Linked DNA regions of Homo sapiens. The protein of the gene in region 1 purifies or fractionates together with the protein of each later gene. This does not show direct contact. Each region holds a gene or a part of one and is shown in the gene's direction. Other genes may lie near its edges.

Evidence for each region.
Region 2: the proteins of KLRG2 (region 1) and F5 purify together in Homo sapiens (affinity purification with mass spectrometry; 2 studies listed by BioGRID and IntAct, with this or other methods). This does not show direct contact.
Region 3: the proteins of KLRG2 (region 1) and EMILIN3 purify together in Homo sapiens (affinity purification with mass spectrometry; 2 studies listed by BioGRID and IntAct, with this or other methods). This does not show direct contact.
Region 4: the proteins of KLRG2 (region 1) and CD47 purify together in Homo sapiens (affinity purification with mass spectrometry; 2 studies listed by BioGRID and IntAct, with this or other methods). This does not show direct contact.
Region 5: the proteins of KLRG2 (region 1) and GXYLT2 purify together in Homo sapiens (affinity purification with mass spectrometry; 2 studies listed by BioGRID and IntAct, with this or other methods). This does not show direct contact.
Region 6: the proteins of KLRG2 (region 1) and COLEC12 purify together in Homo sapiens (affinity purification with mass spectrometry; 2 studies listed by BioGRID and IntAct, with this or other methods). This does not show direct contact.
Region 7: the proteins of KLRG2 (region 1) and PRSS23 purify together in Homo sapiens (affinity purification with mass spectrometry; 2 studies listed by BioGRID and IntAct, with this or other methods). This does not show direct contact.

What each region holds. Positions count from the first base shown.
Region 1 is NC_000007.14:139,480,874-139,484,976, reverse strand, and holds the start of KLRG2 (killer cell lectin-like receptor subfamily G member 2), read left to right. Parts: upstream 1-1,303; 5' UTR 1,304-1,334; coding exon 1,335-2,091; intron 2,092-4,103.
Region 2 is NC_000001.11:169,544,982-169,548,481, reverse strand, and holds part of F5 (coagulation factor V preproprotein), read left to right. Parts: intron 1-1,889; coding exon 1,890-2,040; intron 2,041-3,500. UniProt on the Homo sapiens protein: Central regulator of hemostasis. It serves as a critical cofactor for the prothrombinase activity of factor Xa that results in the activation of prothrombin to thrombin.
Region 3 is NC_000020.11:41,361,641-41,363,818, reverse strand, and holds part of EMILIN3 (EMILIN-3 precursor), read left to right. Parts: coding exon 1-181; intron 182-764; coding exon 765-2,178.
Region 4 is NC_000003.12:108,042,591-108,046,031, reverse strand, and holds the end of CD47 (leukocyte surface antigen CD47 isoform 1 precursor), read left to right. Parts: 3' UTR 1-2,941; downstream 2,942-3,441. UniProt on the Homo sapiens protein: Adhesive protein that mediates cell-to-cell interactions. Acts as a receptor for thrombospondin THBS1 and as modulator of integrin signaling through the activation of heterotrimeric G proteins.
Region 5 is NC_000003.12:72,954,046-72,957,545, forward strand, and holds part of GXYLT2 (glucoside xylosyltransferase 2 precursor), read left to right. Parts: intron 1-1,052; coding exon 1,053-1,304; intron 1,305-3,183; coding exon 3,184-3,307; intron 3,308-3,500.
Region 6 is NC_000018.10:316,237-319,469, reverse strand, and holds the end of COLEC12 (collectin-12), read left to right. Parts: 3' UTR 1-2,733; downstream 2,734-3,233. UniProt on the Homo sapiens protein: Scavenger receptor that displays several functions associated with host defense. Promotes binding and phagocytosis of Gram-positive, Gram-negative bacteria and yeast.
Region 7 is NC_000011.10:86,807,042-86,810,541, forward strand, and holds part of PRSS23 (serine protease 23 precursor), read left to right. Parts: intron 1-589; 5' UTR 590-602; coding exon 603-1,754; 3' UTR 1,755-3,500.

The sequences.
Region 1 (4,103 bases):
TGCTTCAAATTTAGCAGAATCCTTGTTGCTCTGACAGGAGCTCTTTTCAAACTGATGTCTTATCCTTCTTAGTGCCTCAAACTAGATCTTGTCGAGACATGTGATAACAAGTTAGTACAAATTTATTTTGGTGCCAAAAAATTTTCAAATCCATGCATAGTTTTTTTCATAGTATGAATTTTCCATGAACCTTTTGAAGACCGCTTGTATAGAAAAAAACAGTATATATAGGGTTTGGTGCTATCCAAAGTTTCAGGCATTCACTGGGAGGTCTTGGAACTATCCCAGTGGATAAGGGAGGACTACTATGCTAAAAACTATCCCTTGTTTAACTGAAATTCAAATTAAACTGAGTGGCCTGCATTTTATCTGCCAACCCTACCCTGGGGGCACTTAAAAATACCAGAGGCCAGGCGGGGCGCGGTGGCTCACGCCTGTAACCCCAGCACTTTGGGAGGCCGAGGCGGGCAGATCACGAGGTCAGGAGATCGAGACCATCCTGGCCAACATGGTGAAACCCCGTCTCTACTAAAAATACAAAAATTAGCCGGGCGTGGTGGGGTGGGTGCCTGTAGTCCCAGCTACTCACGAGGCTGAGGCAGGAGAATCGCTTGAACCTGGGAGGCGGAGATTGCAGTGAGCCGAGATCGGGCCACTGCACTCCAGCCTGGCGACAGAGCAAGACTCCGTCTCAAAAAAAAAAAAAAAAAGAAGAATTGCTTATCCACGCCCTGTTTCTTTTCTCTTAGCGTTACTCAGTGGGGGAGTCCTCCCAAGTATGATGGAGAGTCCTTTCGAAACCCTGCTGGATTGTCAGGACAACCAACTGGGCTACTTTTCCACAGGTCGCCCCAATTCCTTTGGATTCTGATTTCTCTGAGGTCCCAGGATCCAGACAGGCTTGGCCAATCCTTCCCCGCCCAAACTGTAACTCTCAAAACCAACACCCCGGCATAGGGCTGGAGGGGAAAATGGGTGAGGTCAGAGACAAAGAAGAGGGAAGGGTCAGGCGGGGCTCCGGGTTCCCTGCCACAAGCCTCCGCTGGTGTTCTGCTTTTCTCCCGAGAGCTCCCGCCCACCCTGCAACCCTCGCCTGGCCCCGCTGCCGTTCTCAGCTCCCTCCCAGTGCCTGGTGGAGGCCGGGGCTGTGTCCCGAAGGGGGTCGGGGCAGCAGAACCTCAGCCACAGCCAATCACAGCGGGGTCCTTCGGGGAGGGGCGTGGCCTGACAACTTCGGCGACGCGGCTGGACCAATCCGGACGGAGGAGAGCGAAGCTCCTCTGCACTGGGCCCAGGTGCGCTCCTCAGCGTCTCCGGGTGGCGGGGCGCGCGGGATGGAGGAGTCTTGGGAGGCTGCGCCCGGAGGCCAAGCCGGGGCAGAGCTCCCAATGGAGCCCGTGGGAAGCCTGGTCCCCACGCTGGAGCAGCCGCAGGTGCCCGCGAAGGTGCGACAACCTGAAGGTCCCGAAAGCAGCCCAAGTCCGGCCGGGGCCGTGGAGAAGGCGGCGGGCGCAGGCCTGGAGCCCTCGAGCAAGAAAAAGCCGCCTTCGCCTCGCCCCGGGTCCCCGCGCGTGCCGCCGCTCAGCCTGGGCTACGGGGTCTGCCCCGAGCCGCCGTCACCGGGCCCTGCCTTGGTCAAGCTGCCCCGGAATGGCGAGGCGCCCGGGGCTGAGCCTGCGCCCAGCGCCTGGGCGCCCATGGAGCTGCAGGTAGATGTGCGCGTGAAGCCCGTGGGCGCGGCCGGTGGCAGCAGCACGCCATCGCCCAGGCCCTCCACGCGCTTCCTCAAGGTGCCGGTGCCCGAGTCCCCTGCCTTCTCCCGCCACGCGGACCCGGCGCACCAGCTCCTGCTGCGCGCACCATCCCAGGGCGGCACGTGGGGCCGCCGCTCGCCGCTGGCTGCAGCCCGGACGGAGAGCGGCTGCGACGCAGAGGGCCGGGCCAGCCCCGCGGAAGGAAGCGCCGGCTCCCCGGGCTCCCCCACGTGCTGCCGCTGCAAGGAGCTGGGGCTGGAGAAGGAGGATGCGGCGCTGTTGCCCCGCGCGGGGTTGGACGGCGACGAGAAGCTGCCCCGGGCCGTAACGCTTACGGGTGAGTGCTCACCTGCGCCGGCAGCCGACGCCGCCAGGTCGGGTGGACGTAGCCGAAACCCCCACACCCGCCCAGCCCTGGACCGCTGGGCAGCTGACCGACTAAGGGACCCAGTTGGCCATCCCGATCCCCAACCCGATCTGGCCTCTCGGGCTTACAATCAATAACATTCCTGTCTACGTAACTGTAATTCACATTGTTGCCGTGTCTCACGCCTGTAATCCCAGCACTTTGGGAAGCCGAGGCGGGCGGATCACCTGAGGTCAGGAGTTCGAGACCAGCCTGACCAATATGATGAAACCCCGTCTCTACTAAAAATACAAAAATTAGCCTGGCATGGTGGCATTCACCTGTAATCCCAGCTACTCAGGAGGCTGAGACAGGAGAGTCGCTTGAACCCGAGAAGCGGAGGTTGCAGTGGGCCGAGATCATGCCATTGTACTCCAGCCTGGGCAACAAGAGAGAAACTCCGTCTCAAAAAAAAAAGAGTAAAGCCACTCCCCTTCTCATCCTCCCCTACCCGCACTCCCGAACTTTCAAATTCCCTCTTAGCATGCGCAGCACCTTTGAGAAGTAGCAGTGGAAGGAACTCCAGATGAGGGGAAGTCATTCAGGATCAGGTGGCAGGGGTGGCAGCCCAGATCCCCCCATCCCTGCACTGCCAAGGACTTTCTGGAAGGTCCAGGCTGCTGCTTTCTTTCCACCACACTGAGGAACATTTAGCCCCAAACACTCATCCATTCAGTAGATAGTGAGTGGGACCACAGGGTAGATGTGCCAGTAGTATGTGCGGCTGGTTATTTTGTGGTGTGGGGGAGGGGGAGCTTGACACAGAAGAAAGAGCCCACAAAAGATACAGACTGTCCTGGATAAGGAGACTGGAGGGAGTAGTTGGTGAATTTGGGGCAAGAGATAGCCAATTTTTTTCTTTTTTTCTTTTTTCTTTCTTTTTTTTTTAAGAAATAAGTTTTGCGCTTGTCACCCAGGCTGGAGTGCAATGGCACAATCTCGGCTCACTGCAACCTTCGCCTCCTGGATTCAAGCGATTCTCCTGCCTCAGCCTCCTCCCGAGTAGCTGGGATTACAGGCGCCGGCCACCATGCCTGGCTAGTTTTTGTATTTTTGGTAGACAGGGGGTTTCATCATGTTGGCCAGGCTGGTCTGGAACTCCTGACCTCAGGTGATCCAGCCGCCTCAGCCTCCCAAAGTGCTGGGATTACAGGTGTGAACCACCGGGCCAGCCAGAAAGCCACATCTTGAAAGGTGAGTAGGAGTAGGGGGTGCTAGGGATCCCTGCTAGGTAGAGAGACTGGAAGGAGCAACGGCCAGGAGGGGTCAGAGCCCCGCCCAGCAGGCAAACTGGCAAAAGCTTGGCTGATTGAGAAGCAGGCCAAGCCCACTGACAGGCACCAAATTCCCAGGGCCTCTAGTTGAGAGGTTCTTAGACAGGGCTAGGGTTCAGGGGCTTGGATCACTCAGGAACTTTTGCAGAGTTTGATGTGAGCACATTTTCTGTGTGATGGAATATTAGTTTTCTATTGCTGTTGTAACAAATTACCACAAACTTAGTGTCTTTAAGTGACACAAATGTATTATCTTACAGTTCCGTTAAGTCAGAAGTCTATAATGCCGGCTCACTGGTCTAAAATCGAGTTTTCAGTGGGGCTGCATTCCTTTCTGGGGGTCTAGGGGAGACTCCCTTTTCTTGCCTTTGCTAGCTTCTGGGCTTTTCTTAGGTCAAGCCCTTCTCTATATTAAAATCCAGCGTTGTTGGTAGAGTCCTCCTGCTGCCACTTCTGATGCTCACCACCTGTCTTCCTCTTCCACATATAAGGCTCCTGAAGCTGGGCACGGTGGCTCACGCCTGTAATCCCAGCACTTTGGGAGGCCAAGGCGGGCGGATCACTTAGGGTCAGGAGTTCAAGACCAGCCTGACCAACATCGTCAAACCCCATCTCTACTAAAGATATGAAAATTAGCCAGGCATGGTGGCAGTCACCTGTAATCCCAGC
Region 2 (3,500 bases), on another chromosome or scaffold:
TGCCTGAATTATATGGCTTCAGTAGTTCCAAGAACTATGTCACTTTGGTTTCTGAGAACTCAGTGGTGTAGATAATTTGCTGCAATGTTAATGACTGAATACAGCACTTTTTTTTCTTTTTTTTTTACTCTTAAGTTCAGGGGTACTTATGTGCAGGATGTGCAGGTTTGTTACATAGGTAAACATGTGTCATGGAGGTCTGTTGTACTTACTACTTCATCACCCAGGTATTAAGCCTAGTATCCATTAGTTATTTTTTCTGATCCTCTCCCTCTTTCCACCCTCCATCCTCTGATAGGCCCCAGTATGTATTGTTCCCTTCTATGTGTCCATGTGTTCTCATAATTTAGCTTTCACTTGTAAGTGAAAACATGCAGTATGTGGTTTTCTGTTCTTGCGTTAACTTGCTTAGAATAATGGCCTCCAGCTCCATCCATGTCCCTGCAAAGGACATAATCTTGTTCTTTTTGATGGTCACATAGTATTCTATGGTGTATATGTACCATATTTTCTTCATCCAGTCTGTCATTGATGGGCATTTGGGTTGATTTCATGTCTTTGCTATTGTGAAGAGTGCGAAAATGAACATACGCATGCATGTGTCTTTATAACAGAATGATTTATATTCCTTTGGGTACATACCAAGTAATGGAATTGCTGGGTTCAAAGGTATTTCTGACTTTAGGTCTTTGAGGACTCACCATGGTATCTTCCACAATGGTTGAACTAATTTACACTCCCACCAAGAGTGTATAAGTGTTCCTTTTTCTCCACAACCTTGCCAACATCTGTTAGTTTTTGACTTTTTAATAATAGCCATTCTTATTGGTGCGAGATGGTATCTCATTGTGGTTTTGATTTGCATTTCTCTAATGATCAGTGATGTTGAGCGTTTTTTTCATATGCTCTTTGGCCACATGTGTGTCTTCTTTTGAAAAGTGTCTGTTCCTGTCCTTGGCCTACTTTTTAATGGGGCTGTTTGTTTTTTTCTTGTAAATTTAAGTTCCTTATAAATGCTCCATATTAGACCTTTGCCAGATGCATAGTTTGCAAAAATTTTCTCCCATTCTGAATGTTGTCTGTTTACTCTCTTGATAGTTTCTTTTGCTGTGCAGGAGCTCTTTATTTCAATTAAATCCCATTTGACAATTTTTGCTTTTGTTGCTATTGCTTTTGGCATGTTCGTCATGAAAGCTTTGCCCATCCCTATGTCCCAAATAATATTGCCTAGGTTGTCTTCCAGGGTTTTTGTAGTTTGGGGTTTTACGTTTAAGTGTGTTGTTGTTGTTTTTTGTTTGTTTGTTTCTGTTATTTTTGAGATGGAGTCTCGTTCTGTTGCCCAGGCTGGAGTGCAGTGGTACGATCTCAGCTCACTGCAACCTCTGCCTCCCATGTTCAGGTGATTCTCCTGCCTCGGCCCCTCGGCCTCCCGAGTAGCTGGGATTACAGGCATAAGCCACGATGCCTGGCTAATTTTCTTTTCTTTTCTTTTCTTTTCTTTTTTTTTTTTTTTTTAGTAGAGACGGGTTTTGCCATGTTGACCAGACTGGTCTTCAACTCCTGACCTCAGGTGATCCACCCGCCTTGGCCTCCCAAAGTGCTGGTATTACAGGCGTGAGCCACCGCGCCAGGCCTACATTTAAGTCTTTAATCCATCTTGAGTTAATTTTTGTATATGATGTAAGAAAGGGGTCCAGTTTCAATTTTCTGCCTACGGCTAGCCAGTTTTCCCAGAACCATTTATGGAATAGAGAATCCTTTCCCTATTGCTTGCTTTTGTCACAGATCAGATAGTTGTAGGTGCGCAGCCTTATTTCTGAGTTCTCTATTCTGTTCCATTGGTCTATGCGTCTGTTCTTGTACCAGTACTATACTGTTTTGTCCTCCAGAGGGCAGCAGACATCGAACAGCAGGCTGTGTTTGCTGTGTTTGATGAGAACAAAAGCTGGTACCTTGAGGACAACATCAACAAGTTTTGTGAAAATCCTGATGAGGTGAAACGTGATGACCCCAAGTTTTATGAATCAAACATCATGAGCAGTAAGTCAGAGTACTATTTTTGTTCATCAGTTTTTCATTCCTGTGGTTGAAATATGACTGTGCCTAGAGTCAGAGACATGGATTAAAATCTACTCGCTAAGGGGCACCTCCAATCCTCACTTCCAGTCCAAAGACTTGGTGATGAAATCCGTGGGTGACATCATAGCAACATTTTTAAGCAAGAGGTCAAAGGCTCACATCCTTAGAAATGCGTTTGATCTTCTATTCCAAGCGTGTGTGTGTGTGTGTGTGTGTGTGTGTACACAGACATACTCTGCGTGGTGAGGAAAAGGGTGAGAGAGTAGGACTAATGGAAGGTGTTATAGTCCATGTCAATAGTATCCTAGACTGAGTTCAGGGTGAATATATGGCTAGGACAGAAAGAAGGCAAGTAATCCAAAGATGGATTGACACATCAAAGTAGAGCAAAATGAGTATAGGGACCCAAGAGTCTTGGAAAGGCATGCATGAAGACATTTCAAGTGATCAGTAAGATTTTCAGAACAAAAGGAATTCCCTGAATGAGGGTTCCGGCATTTGCTGCAGTTCTAAAGTTCAGTGGCCAAAAGCACTGCCATGGCAGTCTGAGAGAAATGTCACTGAGCCAGCTGGAAGCAAACTTCTCCACAACAGCCAGGGTCCCCCTACTGATCCTCAGAGTCTAGAGTCATGGTAATCACCTTCTCTAGTAGGTAATCACACATGTGAGGATGATTTCTGCATGTTCTGTTCATATAGCTTCAGATGACTGACAGCTAGGGATTATCAGAGCTGACAGGTGCCAGGTCAAATAATTCAAACAGAAAATTACTCTCAGCTTTCTTTGCATAACTTCCTTTTGGCAGTGAATCTATCATAGTTCTAGACCAGTGCTGTCCAATAGAAACTACGTATGAGCTACATGCGTAATTTAAAATTTTCTGATAGCAACATTAAAAAGTAAAGAGAAATAGGTGACATTAATTTTAGTAATATGTTTTACTTAACTCAGTATATCCTGAATATTATCATTTCAACATGTAACCAATATAAAAATTAATGAGACTTACTTTATTACTAAGTCTTTGAAATTCAATGTATATTTTATACTCACAGCATATCTCAGTCCAGTCTACCCATATTTCAAGTGCTCGATAACCACTTGTAGCCAGTGGCTACCATATTGAACAATGCAGTTATAGACCATTTAGAAAAACATCTAGAATGAGGTATAAACTAATAATACATCATGTAAATTATTAAAGTCACTTAAGTGATTTAAGTAGGTATTTAAATATTTGTTAATGCCAGTCATTATACTGGTACTAAGGCTAAGAGTGGTAATCGAGGTAGACATGAGCCCTGCCCTTGTAGAAATCATACCTTTGGTTTTTTACTATGCTTAGTACATAAGTAAATAAAAATATTGCCTACAGCAGTGTCCCTTTTAACAATAATGAAATGTATGAACTGGATACTCA
Region 3 (2,178 bases), on another chromosome or scaffold:
ACAGTGACAGACCTCGCCTGGCGTTGCTGTCCCGGCTTCACTGGGAAACGCTGCCCTGAGCACCTCACGGACCATGGGGCTGCCTCACCCCAGCTGGAGCCTGAGCCTCAGATTCCTTCAGGGCAGCTGGACCCAGGCCCCAGGCCCCCTTCCTACAGCAGAGCAGCCCCCAGCCCTCATGGTGAGTCTGCCCAAGGAGACCCTCCAAGGTGATTGGGTTTCTTGGGCTCAGTGGCAGGGGCAGGGAGGGGACTGATCCCAGGCTGGCTGAGCTCCGGCATGGATGGGGAGGGGCAAGCCCCAAGCCCCACTTTCACCCCACCATAAAGCTGAGGGAGTTATGCCCAGTGAGAAGGTAGGCTTAGAACAGAAAGTCTGGGCTGGGCGCGGTGGCTCATGCCTGTAATCCCAGCACTTTGGGAGGCCGAGGCGGGTGGATCACGAGGTTAGGAGATCGAGACCATCCTGGCTAACATCGTGAAACCCCATCTCTACTAAAGATAGAAAAAAAATAGCCGGGCGTGGTGGTGGGTGCCTGTAGTCCCAGCTGCTTGGGAGGCTGAGGCAGGAGAATGGCATGAACCCGGAAGGCGGAGCTTGCAGTGAGCCAAGAGCACACCACTGCACTCCAGCCTGGGCGACTGAGCAAGACTCTGTCTCAAAAAAAAAAAAAAAGAACAGAAAGTCTCTTGGGTGGCCTGGCATTGTGACAAGCTGAGAGGGTGAGGCCAGTGATGCCCCTGGGGCTCTCTTCTCTTTCCCAGGAAGGAAAGGCCCAGGGCTGTTTGGTGAGCGGCTGGAACGCCTGGAGGGTGATGTCCAGCGCCTGGCTCAAACATATGGTACCCTCAGTGGCCTGGTGGCTAGCCACGAGGATCCCAACAGGATGACTGGTGGCCCCAGGGCTCCTGCTGTCCCTGTGGGCTTTGGGGTCATCCCTGAGGGGCTTGTGGGCCCAGGAGACAGAGCCAGAGGGCCACTAACACCTCCCTTAGACGAGATCCTAAGCAAGGTGACAGAGGTGAGCAACACTCTTCAGACCAAGGTGCAGCTTCTAGACAAGGTGCATGGGCTGGCACTTGGCCATGAGGCCCACCTGCAGCGGCTGCGGGAAGCCCCACCATCCCCGCTCACCTCCCTGGCCCTGCTGGAGGAGTACGTGGACCGACGGCTGCACCGACTCTGGGGGAGCCTGCTGGATGGCTTTGAGCAGAAGCTGCAAGGCGTCCAGAGTGAGTGTGACCTGCGGGTGCAGGAGGTACGGCGGCAATGTGAGGAGGGTCAGGCCGCCAGCCGGAGGCTGCACCAGAGCCTTGATGGCCGGGAGCTGGCCCTGCGCCAGGAGCTGTCACAGCTGGGCAGCCAGCTGCAGGGCCTGAGCGTGTCTGGCAGGGGCAGCTGCTGTGGGCAACTAGCCTTGATCAATGCCCGTATGGATGGCCTTGAGAGGGCCCTGCAGGCAGTCACCGAGACCCAAAGGGGCCCCGGTGCCCCGGCCGGGGATGAGCTTACGAGGCTCTCTGCTGCCATGCTCGAGGGAGGTGTGGACGGGCTGCTTGAGGGTCTGGAGACGCTCAATGGGACAGAGGGTGGAGCAAGGGGATGCTGTCTGAGGTTGGACATGGGGGGGTGGGGAGTGGGCGGCTTTGGGACCATGCTGGAAGAGCGCGTGCAGAGCCTCGAGGAGCGCCTAGCAACATTGGCTGGGGAGCTAAGCCATGACAGCGCCTCTCCGGGCAGGTCAGCTCGGCCCCTTGTACAGACAGAGCTGGCTGTGCTAGAGCAACGGTTGGTCTCACTGGAGACTTCGTGCACCCCGAGCACCACCTCAGCCATCCTGGACAGCCTCGTGGCAGAGGTGAAGGCCTGGCAGAGCCGGAGCGAGGCCCTCCTACGCCAGGTGGCCAGCCACGCAGCACTGCTCCAGCAGCTCAATGGCACTGTGGCCGAGGTCCAGGGACAGCTGGCAGAAGGGACGGGCAGCTCACTTCAAGGCGAGATCACTCTGCTCAAGGTCAATCTGAACTCAGTGAGCAAGTCGCTCACAGGCCTCAGTGACTCTGTCAGCCAGTACTCTGATGCCTTCTTGGCTGCCAACACGTCCCTGGATGAGCGGGAACGCAAGGTGGAAGCCGAAGTCCAGGCCATCCAGGAGCAGGTCAGCAGCCAAGGCTCCAG
Region 4 (3,441 bases), on another chromosome or scaffold:
TGTGGATGTGTGTTTGTATGTGCATACGTATGAGATAGGCACATGCATCTTCTGTATGGACAAAGGTGGGGTACCTACAGGAGAGCAAAGGTTAATTTTGTGCTTTTAGTAAAAACATTTAAATACAAAGTTCTTTATTGGGTGGAATTATATTTGATGCAAATATTTGATCACTTAAAACTTTTAAAACTTCTAGGTAATTTGCCACGCTTTTTGACTGCTCACCAATACCCTGTAAAAATACGTAATTCTTCCTGTTTGTGTAATAAGATATTCATATTTGTAGTTGCATTAATAATAGTTATTTCTTAGTCCATCAGATGTTCCCGTGTGCCTCTTTTATGCCAAATTGATTGTCATATTTCATGTTGGGACCAAGTAGTTTGCCCATGGCAAACCTAAATTTATGACCTGCTGAGGCCTCTCAGAAAACTGAGCATACTAGCAAGACAGCTCTTCTTGAAAAAAAAAATATGTATACACAAATATATACGTATATCTATATATACGTATGTATATACACACATGTATATTCTTCCTTGATTGTGTAGCTGTCCAAAATAATAACATATATAGAGGGAGCTGTATTCCTTTATACAAATCTGATGGCTCCTGCAGCACTTTTTCCTTCTGAAAATATTTACATTTTGCTAACCTAGTTTGTTACTTTAAAAATCAGTTTTGATGAAAGGAGGGAAAAGCAGATGGACTTGAAAAAGATCCAAGCTCCTATTAGAAAAGGTATGAAAATCTTTATAGTAAAATTTTTTATAAACTAAAGTTGTACCTTTTAATATGTAGTAAACTCTCATTTATTTGGGGTTCGCTCTTGGATCTCATCCATCCATTGTGTTCTCTTTAATGCTGCCTGCCTTTTGAGGCATTCACTGCCCTAGACAATGCCACCAGAGATAGTGGGGGAAATGCCAGATGAAACCAACTCTTGCTCTCACTAGTTGTCAGCTTCTCTGGATAAGTGACCACAGAAGCAGGAGTCCTCCTGCTTGGGCATCATTGGGCCAGTTCCTTCTCTTTAAATCAGATTTGTAATGGCTCCCAAATTCCATCACATCACATTTAAATTGCAGACAGTGTTTTGCACATCATGTATCTGTTTTGTCCCATAATATGCTTTTTACTCCCTGATCCCAGTTTCTGCTGTTGACTCTTCCATTCAGTTTTATTTATTGTGTGTTCTCACAGTGACACCATTTGTCCTTTTCTGCAACAACCTTTCCAGCTACTTTTGCCAAATTCTATTTGTCTTCTCCTTCAAAACATTCTCCTTTGCAGTTCCTCTTCATCTGTGTAGCTGCTCTTTTGTCTCTTAACTTACCATTCCTATAGTACTTTATGCATCTCTGCTTAGTTCTATTAGTTTTTTGGCCTTGCTCTTCTCCTTGATTTTAAAATTCCTTCTATAGCTAGAGCTTTTCTTTCTTTCATTCTCTCTTCCTGCAGTGTTTTGCATACATCAGAAGCTAGGTACATAAGTTAAATGATTGAGAGTTGGCTGTATTTAGATTTATCACTTTTTAATAGGGTGAGCTTGAGAGTTTTCTTTCTTTCTGTTTTTTTTTTTTGTTTTTTTTTTTTTTTTTTTTTTTTTTTTTTTTGACTAATTTCACATGCTCTAAAAACCTTCAAAGGTGATTATTTTTCTCCTGGAAACTCCAGGTCCATTCTGTTTAAATCCCTAAGAATGTCAGAATTAAAATAACAGGGCTATCCCGTAATTGGAAATATTTCTTTTTTCAGGATGCTATAGTCAATTTAGTAAGTGACCACCAAATTGTTATTTGCACTAACAAAGCTCAAAACACGATAAGTTTACTCCTCCATCTCAGTAATAAAAATTAAGCTGTAATCAACCTTCTAGGTTTCTCTTGTCTTAAAATGGGTATTCAAAAATGGGGATCTGTGGTGTATGTATGGAAACACATACTCCTTAATTTACCTGTTGTTGGAAACTGGAGAAATGATTGTCGGGCAACCGTTTATTTTTTATTGTATTTTATTTGGTTGAGGGATTTTTTTATAAACAGTTTTACTTGTGTCATATTTTAAAATTACTAACTGCCATCACCTGCTGGGGTCCTTTGTTAGGTCATTTTCAGTGACTAATAGGGATAATCCAGGTAACTTTGAAGAGATGAGCAGTGAGTGACCAGGCAGTTTTTCTGCCTTTAGCTTTGACAGTTCTTAATTAAGATCATTGAAGACCAGCTTTCTCATAAATTTCTCTTTTTGAAAAAAAGAAAGCATTTGTACTAAGCTCCTCTGTAAGACAACATCTTAAATCTTAAAAGTGTTGTTATCATGACTGGTGAGAGAAGAAAACATTTTGTTTTTATTAAATGGAGCATTATTTACAAAAAGCCATTGTTGAGAATTAGATCCCACATCGTATAAATATCTATTAACCATTCTAAATAAAGAGAACTCCAGTGTTGCTATGTGCAAGATCCTCTCTTGGAGCTTTTTTGCATAGCAATTAAAGGTGTGCTATTTGTCAGTAGCCATTTTTTTGCAGTGATTTGAAGACCAAAGTTGTTTTACAGCTGTGTTACCGTTAAAGGTTTTTTTTTTTATATGTATTAAATCAATTTATCACTGTTTAAAGCTTTGAATATCTGCAATCTTTGCCAAGGTACTTTTTTATTTAAAAAAAAACATAACTTTGTAAATATTACCCTGTAATATTATATATACTTAATAAAACATTTTAAGCTATTTTGTTGGGCTATTTCTATTGCTGCTACAGCAGACCACAAGCACATTTCTGAAAAATTTAATTTATTAATGTATTTTTAAGTTGCTTATATTCTAGGTAACAATGTAAAGAATGATTTAAAATATTAATTATGAATTTTTTGAGTATAATACCCAATAAGCTTTTAATTAGAGCAGAGTTTTAATTAAAAGTTTTAAATCAGTCCAATGTGTTTCATAATTATTTTTTAATTTTCTCCATGGTGCAGTGAAAACATCACATGAGAAAGCAGGAGACCTGGGTGCTAGTCCTGGCTACACTACCAGCTAGCAGAGGACCTGGGAAAGCTACTTCCCTGGATCTCAGTGTCCGTCTCTGCCTGTAGAATGAGATAAGTCTCTTCAAGACTGAAATGTATGGTTCTCCATTTTAATTATCAGTTAGGACTATTGATTACAAGTGAAAGAAAACTTAAATCTAAGAAAAATGGGATCTATTGGCTAACATAACCTGAAAATTCAGACACACAGCTGGATCCTGGGCCTCCAAAAAGTGTCATAAGGACACAATATCTTGCCAGTTCTCAGCTTCACTGTCCTTCGTGTGGCTTTACTCTCCCAGGTTCCTGTGATGGCAAATGGCAAGCTGCAATCCCAAACCCATTTTCTTCCAGGTTCAGGGAGAGTAGAGGGGTAAAAAAGAGCGCATGTCTCTCTCTTAATAGTCCT
Region 5 (3,500 bases), on another chromosome or scaffold:
ATGCCACTGCACTGCAACCCGGACAACAGAGCAAGACCCTCATCTGCAAACTATATATTTTTTTAATTTTTTATTTTGAAATGGAGTCTTGCTCTGTTGCCAGGCTAGAGTGTAGTGGTGCTATCTTGGTTCACTGGAACCTCCGCCCCCTCCCCGGGTTCAAGCGATTCTTCTGCCTCAGCCTCCTGAGTAGGTGGGACTACAGGCGCACACCACCACGCCCAGCTAATTTTTGTATTTTTAGTAGAGACAGGGTTTCAACATGTTGGCCAGGATGGTCTCGATCTCTTGACCTCGTGATCCGCCTGCCTTGGCCTCCCAAAGTGCTGGAATTACAGGCCACTGCTCCCAGCCTGTGTGTGTGTGTGTGTGTGTGTGTGTGTGTGTGTATTTGTATTTATATATATTTATATATATTTTAAAAGATGCAGGGCCCCCCATTAACACTAGAAGAAATGGATCCAAAGATGGAGAGTATTTACCCCCAAGGCTTGGTATGAGCTGCTTTAGAGATTGTCCACTTCAGGTTGCAGTAAGCCAAGATCAGGCCACTGCACTCCAGCCTGGGCGACAGAGTGAGACTCCATCTCAAAAATAAATAAATAAATAAATAAATAAATAAATAAATAAATAGAGATTGTCCACTTCAGGTTTTCTAATGCCACACTGGATGTTCCAAGGAAAACCTAAGAGAGAAAAACAAGTGGCCTTATTGGAAGATGGAAGAAGTGAGAGCCACAATAATTTGCTGATGTTTTCTTTTTTTTGTAAGTTCAACCCTTATCAAATATAGTCCAGGGTCCCAGAATTGGGCTAATCCAGACCAAGATTTATCTTCTTTTAAGTCTCTACCTCTTGATTGACACTCATTCCTCAAGTCAAAGGAGAAGGAAGGAATGGAAGCTAAGAGTGGTACCTTTCCAGAATTTAATACGAATCAACAAAAGTTGGTAGCATTATTTACCTATCAGGCTACTTCCTTTGTTTCTGACCTGTTTTTGTTTTGTTTTCTTCCCTCCTCTCCCCTTTACACCCACTCCTTACACACAAAGGTGATTTTAAAGGATGTGGACTCACTTCTCTACGTGGACACCGATGTCCTCTTTCTGAGACCTGTTGATGACATCTGGAAGCTTCTGAGGCTGTTTAATTCCACCCAGCTTGCAGCCATGGCCCCTGAGCACGAAATCCCCAAGATTGGCTGGTACAGCCGCTTTGCTAGGCATCCTTTCTATGGCTCTGCAGGAGTTAATTCAGGAGTCATGTTAATGAATTTAACTCGGATAAGAAGTACCCAGTTCAAGGTAAACGAGTGCTTTAAAATTCCTTGTTTAAAGACTGGGAGTTGGTCTTGTCAACAGTGGCACTACCAGAGTGTCAATATGCTGATTTTGGAAATTGGGTGGCCTATAGGTGAGGATAAAAGGAACCAGAGAAAAGTATTTAGAAAATTATAGAATATTTGTTTATTCAGGAAAAGCTCAGATGGCAATGGAATTTAAAGCTTCAGCAAAGTCGCCATTCAGGAATACTATGTTGCATTTCTGAATTCCATAATGTTTGAACGCTTCATACCCAATGCTTCAAAGACTATGTAAAATTTCTTCAAATTACCCTAGGGATTATTTATGTAAGTCCGTGACGATATTTGTATAAGGATGTTCGTGATCTCATCTTTTATCCTAGCAAAGAAGTGGAAAGAAGCTAAAAGAACATCAGTAGAGAACTAGTCAAAAAAAATTATCCTCCTGGCCAGGGGTGGTGGCTCACACTTGTAATCCCAGCACTTTGGAAGACCAAGGCAGGTGGATCACTTGAGGCCAGGAGTTTGAGACCAGCCTGACCAACATGGCGAAACCCTGTCTCTATTAAAAACACAAAAATTAGCCAGGAATGATGGCGCACACCTGTAGTCCTAGCTATTCAGGAGCCTAAGGCAGGAGAATCGTGTGAACCCGAACAGCAGAGGTTGCAGTGAGCCAAGATCACGCCACTGTACTCCAGCCTGGCGACAGAGACTGTGATTATTTGTATGCCTTAGAAATTTCCAGAAGAATTAATGGGGCATGGTGTCACGTGGCTGTAGTCTCAGCTACTTGGGAGGCTGAGATGGGAGGATCGCTTGAGCCCAGGAGGTCGAGGCTGCATTATAGCCACTGCACTTCACCCTAAACAACAGAGTGAGACCCTGTCTCTAAAAAAAGAAAGAAAGAAAGAAAAAGACATGTCCAGAAGAATACCTAAGAGACCATTAATTGTTAACTGTGGATACGTCTGGGGAAAATGGGAATGGGATATGGAAGAAGAATATTTTTACTTTTTTATTTTATATTTTTGTGTGCTGTTTGAATAATTCAGTCTGTGAATATGTTACTTTTATTTTAAAAGTAAATCATTGTTTAAGACAAGGAAAGGTGTTTTTCCTTAAGATACCTGAACTCTGTTATCTGTATTTTGTTCCTTCACCTCACAGTGAGGAAATAAGCCTAAGAAAGATGTTCACCTAAGAAAGGTGAAGTAGAGTAGAGAATCCTGAAGTAGAGACTGCTGTTGAGAAAGACTTCGCCTCTTAGGTGTGGGGACTCACGCCTATAATCCCAGCACTTTGGGAGGGAGGTGGGTCACTCGAGGTCAGGAGTTTGATATCAGCCTCGCCAACAGGGGGAAACCCCATCTCTACTAAAAATACAAAAAGTTAGCCGGGCGTGATGGCGTGCACCCGTAGTCTCAGCTGCCTGGGAGGCTGAGGCACGAGAATCGCTTGAACCCGGGAGGTGGAGGTTGCAGTAAGCCAAGATTGTGCCACTGCATGCCAGCCTGGGCGACAGAGCAAGACTCTGTCTCAAAACAAAAACAAAAACAAAAACACAGGAAGGAAGGGAGGGAGGGAGGGAGGGAAGAGAAGAAAGGAAGGGGTTCAATTCCAGGCATGGTTTTCTGAGTAGAAACCATAGGTTCAACTTTCAGTCCCTGGTCTATCTAGTATCCGTGTGTACAGCTGAAAAAAGCGATACAATCAACAGCCCAAATTTTGCTTTGTTCTGTGACCTGAGAATAGCAGGACCCCTCCTGTATTTGTTTCCCTCCTCTGAAGGGAAGAAAACTAGTCCCTTTACATTGTTTCTCAGTGGACAAAATGTATTTGCTTTGCTTCAGCTGTTCTGATGGTTTTCTTTTTTCCAGAACAGCATGATTCCAACAGGCCTGGCTTGGGAGGACATGTTGTACCCTCTGTACCAGAAGTACAAGAATGCCATCACGTGGGGAGACCAGGATTTATTAAATATTATTTTTTATTTCAACCCAGGTAGGTTATCTTTGGAGAATGCCTTTTGTGTAGGAGTACACTCAGCACACCCCACGGAGCACATTCCATGCCCGGGTTGCTATTGACTAGGCTTGAATTGTGCACAGAGGAGCCTGTGTTCCCCAGCGAAGTTTGCCCTTTCATCCGCCCCCCTGGGTATCTGATGGAGGCGGGGCCTTGCACTACTGACACA
Region 6 (3,233 bases), on another chromosome or scaffold:
TGGTACTAATAAAAACTCCTAGGGTTTCCTGTCAGATTTAATTCTACCCAGTGGCAAAGAATTTTTTCAATTGTGGCTTTAAAAAAATAATTAAATATACATGTGTATATATATATATATATATATATTTTTTTTTTTTTTTTTTTTTAATGTTTCATTTCCTCAGAGGAACCAATCACTTGGAATGTCTAGAAATATCCTTGCAGATTTTGCCAGTGTCAATCAAGCCTGCACACATGCACAGTGAAGCGGGCTGTGCCTGCCTTGAGCCCATCACCAGCCAACATTCTTGACGTGTGCCTGACCAGACACAGAAGAAATGGGCAACTCAAGACGTGCTTCCACTTCATTTTGGTGGAGTCGGGAGGTGTGGGGGATGGAGAGGCATCTGTTGGGAAGGGCACTGAATCTGGCCTATCTGGAAGGCCCTGTGTCATGGCTGAGCTATGACTGTACTTGGCATCAGATCCCTACAGAGCCAACATTAACTGTCAGGAACGTATGGCGTCACATCAGCCAAAGGCAGAGATGCTAGAAAGATGGGAACCGGCTACGTGTTACCTGGAAAGTTTGTTTTCTTAAGTCATATTCCAAAAACATAACTCCAAGGCATACGCATGATAAAATGCAAGAATAAACTTTTGGCCACTTTGTGGAACTCTTAAAAGAACCTTTCCAGCCGGGCGCAGTGGCTCATGCCTGTAATCCCAGCACTTTGGGAGGCCGAGGCAGGCAGATGACTTGAGGTCAGGAGTTCGAGACCAGCCTGGCCAACGTGGCAAAACCCCATCTCTACTAAAAATAAGAAAATTAGCCGGGTGTAGTGGCACATGCCTGTAATCCCAGCTACTCAGGAGGCTGAGGCAGGAGAATCGCTTGAGCCCAGGAGGCAGAGATTGCAGTGAGCCAAGATCGCACCACTGCACTCCAGCCTCGGTGACAGAGCAAGACTCCATCTCAAAAAAAAAAAAAAAAAAAAAACCTTTCCTCTGAGCCCATCTTCCTTTCGCTCCTTGACTTTCCTTGACTTGCTGTTGGAAAGTCTAATATGAAAAGGGCTGAAACTAGGCATTAAATATAACTGATGCTCAAAGGTAAGATTTCCATCCAACAGATTCCTTCTCCCTCCCAAGGGTCTTCCCAGGCAGTGCTGCTACTTATCCCAAATAAAATGGTAAAAGAATAAAGACAGCCGGGCGCGGTGGCTCACGCCTGTAATCCCAGCACTTTGGGAGGCCGAGGCGGACGGATCACAAGGTCAGGAGATCGAGACCATCCTGGCTAACACGGTGAAACCCCGTCTCTACTAAAAATACAAAAAAAAAATTAGCCGGGCGCGGTGGCGGGCGCCTGTAGTCCCAGCTACTCGGGAGGCTGAGGCAGGAGAATGGCGTGAACCCAGGAAGCGGAGCTTGCAGTGAGCCGAGATCGCGCCACTGCACTCCAGCCTGGGCGACAGAGCGAGACTCATCTCAAAAAGAAAAAAAAAAAAGAATAAAGACAGAGTTTGACTTTCCCACCTGCGAACAAGTGGACTGTACTGCTTTGCCCACAGTCTCCATTCCCCATTCATGCTGTTTTCACAGCCCAGTAATGGCCAACTGCTCAGCACCTGTGTGCCCTGCTGTCAGGCAGGTGGGACCCACAGTCCTCTGGGCCTAAACTGCTGAAGCCTGCACCACAAGGCGGGCACGGCATTCCAACACCTCTTCAGGCTCAACAGCCTTTAGAGGCTACACTGAGTCCTCTTTTTCATGCTCTTCCTGGTTTTCAAGTGTCAATTAAAATTTGTCTTCAGAAGAAACTTGAAAATAAGTATCTGATGCCGTCATCAGGATAGACTAGTATTAGCTTTCGCAGCTGAAGTTATTGCTCTCCCAGCCCTAATAATAACTTACCAAGTGCTTATTATTTATCAGGCACTGGTCCAAGTCCTTCAATCAGATTGTCTCACCTGATCCTCCCAACAGCCCTAGGAAGCAGGTCTTACTACACTCCCCATTTCACAGGGACTGGGGCTTGGGGAGGTGATGCGGTTTCCTGGGTCACTCCATTACTGAGTAGTGAGACAGGATTCAGACGCAAGCTTTGAAAATGTTCTAATTTTCTTTAGAAGGAAGGGCCCTTCTTAATAGCACACTGAATAAAATCAAATGAATAATCACACATTACAAGATGCCTCCTATACGTCTCTATATTTAGCTACTTACATACCAGGTTTCTTTTTTGTTTGTTTTTGTTTTTAAGACAGAGTCTCGCTCTGTCACCCAGGCTGGAGTGCGGTGGCGCGATCTCGGCTCACTGCAATCTCTGCCTCCCAGGTTCAAGCGACTCTCCCGCCTCAGCCTCTGCAGTAGCTTAGGGACTACAGGTGCGTGCCACCATGCCAGGCTAATTTTTGTGTTTTTAGTAGAGACACGGTTTCGCCATTTTGGCCAGGCTGGTCTCAAACTCCTGACCTCAGGTGATCCACCCGCCTTGGCCTCCCAAAGTGCTGGGATTACAGGTGTGAGCCACCGTGCCCGGCCTACACACCAGCTTTCTATTCACCTACACACAACTGATGCTCTTTTGGAGTGGAGAGTTTTAGTAAAATATGATGGGGTCTTCAGGCACCTGAGTTGCTACTTACTACTATGAGAAGATAGAAAATGTTTTTTCCTCTAAACAGCTTTTGAAAGAATGAATGCACAACAAGGCAAAAAATAAAAACTTTCTTTTCCTTTTCTACGATCAATGTTCAACAACTCGTTCCTTCCAATTTGTAACAGAGTTGAAGCTGAAACAGACAAAAAATAGTAATAGCTGCTCCCATTTAAAGAAAAATGCTTGAGGAAACAGCTGTATAAATCAAGAAACAATACCAAGCAGATGACGAAACTGATCTCTTCTTGAGAACGTAAGCATGTTAGCTCATTCGTGACTCAAAGTCATGTAATAATAGTTGACATATACCACTTTTCACATACATTATCGCTTCCAGTCTTCACGCACATCTATTGTTCCTGCTTGAGAAATGAGGAAACTGAGGCTCAGGTTGAAGACTTGCCCATGGCTCACGTATCTGTCACAGTCACTTTCCAAAAAGCAAATCTGATCAGGTTCCCCACTCAGGTCCCCAAATCTGAATCCATCCTACCTCTCACCCTCGGCTTAAAATCTTCCAAACAATCCTGGTTGGGCTCAGGACATACCTGCAGGGGCCGTAAGGCACTTGGTACCTGGTTCCCAAC
Region 7 (3,500 bases), on another chromosome or scaffold:
CCTTTCTCGAGTGCACCATCATTTAAAAACCACAGGAGTGGTGGTAATTGTGACACTGTGGAGCTGTCCTTCTTTGATGTCTCAGTCACTCAGTAAGCCATGTAATTTAAATTGACCCTCTGAGTGACCAAGTTGCTCTGAAAATTTTCCAAGTACATGTTACAATGAGAATGAGAGAAGGAGGAGGGAAAGGCGGGGACATCATGAAGGTAGAAGAGGAGGAGGTTTAGAATCAAGCACAAAGAGGGCTCAAAATTACGTGGAAATTGGGGCTGGTCAGTCAGTTAGCCAGGGGACTAATGACTTTATGCCTGCTACTCTGCAGTCTACCATCATTAGGGACATCTTAAACATAGAAAGGAAGGAACACCCAATTTCACTTCAGGCACCCAGCCACAGGAACTTTCCTAAGGTTGAGCCTTTGCGTTGAAAGTGAGACCGTTATCTAAGGATTCCTCTCCACACCCTGATTCCTGAGGAGTGTTCAAAGACTCAGAAACAATGACAGGCCTGCTGCTGAGCTTTGCTGTCTGCAGTAAATGAACGTTCAGCCCTTGCCCTCCTGACCTGCTTGTCTTTGTTTCTACAGAACAGTGCTCGGCATGGCAGGGATTCCAGGGCTCCTCTTCCTTCTCTTCTTTCTGCTCTGTGCTGTTGGGCAAGTGAGCCCTTACAGTGCCCCCTGGAAACCCACTTGGCCTGCATACCGCCTCCCTGTCGTCTTGCCCCAGTCTACCCTCAATTTAGCCAAGCCAGACTTTGGAGCCGAAGCCAAATTAGAAGTATCTTCTTCATGTGGACCCCAGTGTCATAAGGGAACTCCACTGCCCACTTACGAAGAGGCCAAGCAATATCTGTCTTATGAAACGCTCTATGCCAATGGCAGCCGCACAGAGACGCAGGTGGGCATCTACATCCTCAGCAGTAGTGGAGATGGGGCCCAACACCGAGACTCAGGGTCTTCAGGAAAGTCTCGAAGGAAGCGGCAGATTTATGGCTATGACAGCAGGTTCAGCATTTTTGGGAAGGACTTCCTGCTCAACTACCCTTTCTCAACATCAGTGAAGTTATCCACGGGCTGCACCGGCACCCTGGTGGCAGAGAAGCATGTCCTCACAGCTGCCCACTGCATACACGATGGAAAAACCTATGTGAAAGGAACCCAGAAGCTTCGAGTGGGCTTCCTAAAGCCCAAGTTTAAAGATGGTGGTCGAGGGGCCAACGACTCCACTTCAGCCATGCCCGAGCAGATGAAATTTCAGTGGATCCGGGTGAAACGCACCCATGTGCCCAAGGGTTGGATCAAGGGCAATGCCAATGACATCGGCATGGATTATGATTATGCCCTCCTGGAACTCAAAAAGCCCCACAAGAGAAAATTTATGAAGATTGGGGTGAGCCCTCCTGCTAAGCAGCTGCCAGGGGGCAGAATTCACTTCTCTGGTTATGACAATGACCGACCAGGCAATTTGGTGTATCGCTTCTGTGACGTCAAAGACGAGACCTATGACTTGCTCTACCAGCAATGCGATGCCCAGCCAGGGGCCAGCGGGTCTGGGGTCTATGTGAGGATGTGGAAGAGACAGCAGCAGAAGTGGGAGCGAAAAATTATTGGCATTTTTTCAGGGCACCAGTGGGTGGACATGAATGGTTCCCCACAGGATTTCAACGTGGCTGTCAGAATCACTCCTCTCAAATATGCCCAGATTTGCTATTGGATTAAAGGAAACTACCTGGATTGTAGGGAGGGGTGACACAGTGTTCCCTCCTGGCAGCAATTAAGGGTCTTCATGTTCTTATTTTAGGAGAGGCCAAATTGTTTTTTGTCATTGGCGTGCACACGTGTGTGTGTGTGTGTGTGTGTGTGTAAGGTGTCTTATAATCTTTTACCTATTTCTTACAATTGCAAGATGACTGGCTTTACTATTTGAAAACTGGTTTGTGTATCATATCATATATCATTTAAGCAGTTTGAAGGCATACTTTTGCATAGAAATAAAAAAAATACTGATTTGGGGCAATGAGGAATATTTGACAATTAAGTTAATCTTCACGTTTTTGCAAACTTTGATTTTTATTTCATCTGAACTTGTTTCAAAGATTTATATTAAATATTTGGCATACAAGAGATATGAATTCTTATATGTGTGCATGTGTGTTTTCTTCTGAGATTCATCTTGGTGGTGGGTTTTTTTGTTTTTTTAATTCAGTGCCTGATCTTTAATGCTTCCATAAGGCAGTGTTCCCATTTAGGAACTTTGACAGCATTTGTTAGGCAGAATATTTTGGATTTGGAGGCATTTGCATGGTAGTCTTTGAACAGTAAAATGATGTGTTGACTATACTGATACACATATTAAACTATACCTTATAGTAAACCAGTATCCCAAGCTGCTTTTAGTTCCAAAAATAGTTTCTTTTCCAAAGGTTGTTGCTCTACTTTGTAGGAAGTCTTTGCATATGGCCCTCCCAACTTTAAAGTCATACCAGAGTGGCCAAGAGTGTTTATCCCAACCCTTCCATTTAACAGGATTTCACTCACATTTCTGGAACTAGCTATTTTTCAGAAGACAATAATCAGGGCTTAATTAGAACAGGCTGTATTTCCTCCCAGCAAACAGTTGTGGCCACACTAAAAACAATCATAGCATTTTACCCCTGGATTATAGCACATCTCATGTTTTATCATTTGGATGGAGTAATTTAAAATGAATTAAATTCCAGAGAACAATGGAAGCATTGCCTGGCAGATGTCACAACAGAATAACCACTTGTTTGGAGCCTGGCACAGTCCTCCAGCCTGATCAAAAATTATTCTGCATAGTTTTCAGTGTGCTTTCTGGGAGCTATGTACTTCTTCAATTTGGAAACTTTTCTCTCTCATTTATAGTGAAAATACTTGGAAGTTACTTTAAGAAAACCAGTGTGGCCTTTTTCCCTCTAGCTTTAAAAGGGCCGCTTTTGCTGGAATGCTCTAGGTTATAGATAAACAATTAGGTATAATAGCAAAAATGAAAATTGGAAGAATGCAAAATGGATCAGAATCATGCCTTCCAATAAAGGCCTTTACACATGTTTTATCAATATGATTATCAAATCACAGCATATACAGAAAAGACTTGGACTTATTGTATGTTTTTATTTTATGGCTCTCGGCCTAAGCACTTCTTTCTAAATGTATCGGAGAAAAAATCAAATGGACTACAAGCACGTGTTTGCTGTGCTTGCACCCCAGGTAAACCTGCATTGTAGCAATTTGTAAGGATATTCAGATGGAGCACTGTCACTTAGACATTCTCTGGGGGATTTTCTGCTTGTCTTTCTTGAGCTTTTTGGAAGGATAATTCTGATAAGGCACTCAAGAAACGTACAACCACAGTGCTTTCTTCAAATCATATGAGAAATACTATGCATAGCAAGGAGATGCAGAGCCGCCAGGAAAATTCTGAGTTCCAGCACAATTTTCTTTGGAATCTAACAGGAATCTAGCCTGAGGAAGA